Regions from separate parts of the Homo sapiens genome. Here region 1 is linked to region 2. The links come from fine-mapping of genetic effects on gene expression. Tissue or cell type: putamen. Region 2 holds a variant in brackets; the other region holds the start of a gene. All regions are shown on one strand. Distances are between the middles of the regions.

Region 1 (2,617 bases), 78 kb before region 2:
AGCTGGATAGATCTTTACTCTGACCAGTACCATATAGGTCTGTGGTTCTCAAACCTGGCTGCACAGTGTGGCACTTTAAGTAATCCTGATACCCAGTCCCATCCCCAAAGATGCTGATTTAATTTGTCTAAGGTGCAGTTTGGGCCTCTGGATTGGAACCAACCCATATACCCATCAATGATAGACTGGATAAAGAAAATGTGGCACATATACACCATAGAATACTACACAGCCATAAAAAAGGATGAGTTCATGTCCTATGCAGGGACATGGATGAAGCTGGAAACCATCAACCTCAGCAAACTAACATAAGACCAGAAAACCAAACACTGCATGTTCTTACTCATAAGTGGGAGTTGAACAATGAGAATACACAGACACAGGGAGGGGAACATCACACACGGGGGCCTGTTGGAGGGTGGGGGTTAGGGGAGGGATAGCATTAGGAGAAATACCTAATGTAGATGTTGGGTTGATGGGTGCAGCAAACCACCATGGCACGTGTATACCTATGTAACAAACCTGCATGTTCTGCACATGTATTCCAGAACTTAAAGAATATATATTTATATATGTATAAATATATATGAATATATAAATATAAATATATATATAAGCTCCCCACGTGATTCTAATGTGTGGCCAGTCTTGCAAACCTCAGGCTATTTATTCTAAAGGGTTTGTAACAAGCCTTCCTCTTAAAATCCACCCCACCACCATTCAGCGTTTTGGGGTCTGTTTGTTTTTATTGTTATCCCACCCCACACCGCCCCGAGGCGCGCGCGCGCGCGCGCACACACACACACACACACACACACACACATACACACACGCACACTGGTGAATTTCTCTCTACAGTCAGTCTGGAGTAATCCCAAAGTGGTGTCTTTCGTAAATAAGGAGAACCCGGGTGAAGAAAATGACTCCCACCCGAACAAGGCATGAACAATGTTCACTCCCTACTGTGTTATTCAACCTGTTTCCCCAGGTCTCTGTTTTCACATTAGAGAGTGTTCTAGGAGATGACGCCCTTCCTCCTTAGTTATTTCCCCACCCTCGTGCTGGCCTTTGACAGACCTCCCAGTAGAGGGCCCAAGACGCGGGTAGAGCACCGCGTCTCAGCGCCTGAGTCTCAGCCCCCGAACTCCACCGCACCTGCAGGTCCCCTTGGCAGCACTCAAGCGCGGGGATGCTCCGCTTAGACGAACTCACGTGCGGGCAGCAAGGCCTGCGATACTTGAGCACCCCTCCCCCTCTCCCGTTTACACCCCGTTTGTGTTTACGTAGCGAGGAGATATTTAGGTTTCTAGAAGGCAGGTCATCGCAGGCCCCACCCAGCAGTGGAGAGAGTGAGTCCCAGAGGGTGTTGCCAGCGAGCTCCTCCTCCTTCCCCTCCCCACTCTCCCCGAGTCTAGGGCCCCCGGGGCGTATGACGCCGGAGCCCTCTGACCGCACCTCTGACCACAACAAACCCCTACTCCACCCGTCTTGTTTGTCCCACCCTTGGTGACGCAGAGCCCCAGCCCAGACCCCGCCCAAAGCACTCATTTAACTGGTATTGCGGAGCCACGAGGCTTCTGCTTACTGCAACTCGCTCCGGCCGCTGGGCGTAGCTGCGACTCGGCGGAGTCCCGGCGGCGCGTCCTTGTTCTAACCCGGCGCGCCATGACCGTCGCGCGGCCGAGCGTGCCCGCGGCGCTGCCCCTCCTCGGGGAGCTGCCCCGGCTGCTGCTGCTGGTGCTGTTGTGCCTGCCGGCCGTGTGGGGTGAGTAGGGGCCCGGCGGCCGGGGAAGCCCCTGGGCTGGGTGGGAGGTCCAAGTCGGTCTCTGAGACACGCACAGGGGCCGGCGACTTGGCAGGTGGGGAGCTTGGCCCGCGGTCGTGGTTCCCGCCGTCCTGTGCCTTTAAGGCTCTCGCCGCTCACCAGCATTTGGGGCTCCTGCTGTGTCGGCCCCCAGCTGACTTGGCTTTAGGGGTCGGCGTGGAGGGTTAAAGAGGCCCCGGCTGGGTTTGCGGAGCAGCCAAGCCTGGCAAAATCGAAAGGGAGGGCTCAAAGAGACTGTATCCTTAACCCCCAAAAAGCTGGTCTAAAAGGATGGGAGGCCAGACCGCTGACCGTTCCCCACTCTCGACAGAGTCCAGCCGTGTGGAGCACACGATGCTGCAAACTTGCATGTCATCTCTTTCAGGTGTGGCATTTCAAGGGGGCTTGTGTCTTGAAAACAGCAACTGTGAGGACACTTGATAGTCATTTCCTTCAGTTCTGCTTTTGTCTCCCTAGGTGACTGTGGCCTTCCCCCAGATGTACCTAATGCCCAGCCAGCTTTGGAAGGCCGTACAAGTTTTCCCGAGGATACTGTAATAACGTACAAATGTGAAGAAAGCTTTGTGAAAATTCCTGGCGAGAAGGACTCAGTGATCTGCCTTAAGGGCAGTCAATGGTCAGATATTGAAGAGTTCTGCAATCGTAAGTTCTTCATCTTTTTAGAAAAGTTCTGGGAATGGAATGTATCTTAAATTTATTTTTATATACCTTTGGAGTGACTAGTAATTGATAGTTCTCTAGCGTTACTAAACCCCAGGGTATACCCTGTTGGCACGTCACACTCCAGCTAAT
Region 2 (2,767 bases):
CCCTGGAATGTGTCACAGTTTTTATCCATGGCTTGGTAATTGACACAAACACCGTAGCCTACTGTATACCCTGAATGAGGTGCCAGCAGCTGCCAGCTTTTGTTGATGTTTTGGAAGAGAGGATGCCTGTGGAAGCCTACTAGGAGTGATGCAGACTAGGGGGAGCTGTAGCTCAAACATGCACAGAGACAGTGGTGAGGAGCCACTCTTCCTGGAGGAAACTACAGAGATTCCCATACTAGAGATGGCAGGCAGGGATTAGGGGACTGGGAAATGGAGCAGAAATCAGGCTGATCAATGAAAGGACTCTCCACAGAGGCTTGATGCTGTGGTTCCCCTTCTCTACTCCAGCAAACATTAGTGGGGTAGAGATGCAGCACTGACTTTTCTGTAGACAGGGCCATCCTTAGGGCATGCAAGGCCCCAGCAAACTGGGTATGTGTGTGTGTGTGTGTGTGTGTGTGTGTGTGTGTATATTCTTTGTCTATGAAAACAATTTGATTTAAAAATGCATTACACAACTCATGGTCCCATGTGAGGTATAGTCATTTATGAATAAAAATTTTTTAATGAGTATCAAAAGACACTAATTTGTTCATTGCCTAATCATTCTACATGAAGATTCTTCATCGTGTCCAGGCACCATCTCTTCCTTTTTGGAGTCTAGATCCTCTGTGTTTTTTATTGTCAAATGTGCACAATGTGCTGTTCTTGGTTAATTTTATATCTTCTCCGACCAGACAAAAATGACAACACTGCTATTACAATGCATGGCCCTTTAGAACCTGTTTATACAAGTTGAAAGGATAGAGATTTTCTTGCCCTTCTGTTTTCCTAATACCATGTATTCATTATTAATTATATCATTTCCCACAGTGTTGATCATCTATTGTACCACCCATGAACAATGGCTTCCTTCCAATGACACTCAAAGGTTGCTTCTGTGCTTCATTGATAACCACAATTACAAATATTATCCAAGCGGGAAAAATCTAAATAATATTTCCTCTTCTAGTCTTGTTAAATTTACCATTTGGAATCTATAGTATGTCTTCATCTGAACTCTTTAGGCCATAATCAACACATGGCTAAAATGGGATTTCTTTCCATGGGGCCTGCATCCCTGCTTTCTACCCCTTGTACCCAGTGGGAGGTCAGATCTTATGAGGAGTGATAGAGCAGCTCCATCCCCACGAGAAATGTCCACCCATCTGCTAGCATGGCTTAAGATGAGCCCAGGAGAATGCCCCATTTCTATATGCATTGGAGGCAGGGCATTGAAAGGAGGGGCCCATTGGTGTTTTAGAAATCTCTGGGGAGAGAACAGCCTGATACATGGGCTGGAGCCAGTGGTGGGGGTGGGGTTGGGGGTGGGGGCTGGGAGGCTGAAAGAGGAG[G/A]TGACTGGCCTGGGTGCCATAGTAGGAGCACACAGTATAAAGGACATCTGTTACCACCCTCCCCATCCTCATGTGTCATAGTCCACAGGTGCCAGATGTAGCATCACAGTTGGAACACCAGGCAAGGGCTGTCACAAAGGCCCACACATATTTGCAAGCCCCAGAGTTGGGAATGAACAGTTGGTAGCCTAGAGCCCTGAACTGGAAACATGTAATAATCTCTAGTAAATCTAACGGAAAAAATAAAAGAATCTCAGTTGCTTTAATACAGCATAATAAAAAGAAATACCATTTCATAAAAACCATACCCCAAATAATTGGACTTGGTGGATTCAGGAGGAGCTGCCAAATGGAGTAGGGTCATTTCATCATATGTCAAAGTATCACTTGTAAGATGGCTGGGATAGACTGAATCCTGCCCCCCCAAAATTCATATGCTGAATCCTGAATCCTCAGTGTGATAGTATTTGGAGGTGGGGACTTTGTGAGGTGATGAGGCTTAGCTGAGTTCATGAGGGTGAGGTCCTCCTAATGGGATTAATGTCCTTATAAAAACAGACCTAAGAGCTTTCTCTCTCTCTCTCCCCGCTCCATGTGAGCACACAACCAGAAGGTGGCCGTCTGCAAGCCAGGCTGTCTGTCAATAGCTGTAGGATGCTTAGAACAGTTCCTGGCATGTAGTAAGCTATGTGTTTATTAAATTAAATATACACAAATAAAAGTAAAGCACCTTTGAACTGTCTTTTATGTGTATATTATGTTTAAATATTATTTTTTGATGACAGAAAACAGTTTAGATCTAATGCCTCAGGTGTTAGTTTTTCTCCTTTTCCTTTTCTATACTATTACTCGGTTGTTGTTAATTTATATATTATTTTTCTCTGCCTCGTAATTCATCAGTGATACTGAAGCCTTTATGTCATGGTTGGTTTCCCTTTCCTCATCCAAAAACTTACTAAAGAATAGAAAGCATTTATAATAAGAAAGAAAAATATTCATTAATAATTTAGATTTTCCTATACACCTATGTGTGTGTATTTTATTTTCCCTTTTGTCAGAGTGCAATTTTATCTGTAACCAATGATGTTATCACACAATTGAATAAATCAGCATTTTTATTTAGAAGACAACATTTTTCAAGTAGAGAAAAATTGATCCTCTGAATATTCATTTCTTTATCTTAAATAAATAATGGTTATCTTTGCAAACACAGTGATTGCAAGACATGTACTTCTGCTTTCTCTTAACCTAGAGTTTTGTTGTTGTTATTTCATTGGTTTTGTTTTGTTTCATAGATAGCACATTTAGAACATTAGGAATGTTATCTTGATTTTGTCCAAATCTTTGAAGGTCCTCCCAGATTGATATAT

Alleles and levels. Alleles are on the strand shown, and positions count from the first base shown. SD is a standard deviation of normalised expression in the study named.
As copies of A replace G in region 2, the expression in putamen of the gene that starts at base 1,578 in region 1 goes up (moderate effect, 0.47 SD a copy in GTEx).

The links. PIP is the estimated chance that this variant, and not a neighbour inherited with it, causes the effect.
Region 1: it holds the start of CD55, and the variant in region 2 is fine-mapped to the expression of CD55 in putamen (GTEx, PIP above 0.99). The same link has a PIP of 0.9 or more in caudate, cerebral cortex and prefrontal cortex.

Annotation. Positions count from the first base shown.
Region 1 is chr1:207,320,101-207,322,717 of GRCh38, forward strand. It overlaps CD55 (CD55 molecule (Cromer blood group)), which reads left to right and starts at 1,578. Exons shown (of 10, transcript NM_000574.5): 1 at 1,578-1,765; 2 at 2,282-2,467. The coding sequence starts at 1,666. LOC107985251 (a long non-coding RNA gene) reads right to left here and starts at 2,029. Exons shown (of 3, transcript XR_007066838.1): 1 at 1,586-2,029. RefSeq lists an enhancer at 1,004-1,213 and a silencer at 1,774-1,853.
Region 2 is chr1:207,397,700-207,400,466 of GRCh38, forward strand. No RefSeq gene overlaps it. Among named protein-coding and RNA genes, the nearest start is that of CR2, 55 kb to the right of the region's middle. The variant G/A (reference allele first, on the strand shown) is at 1,398.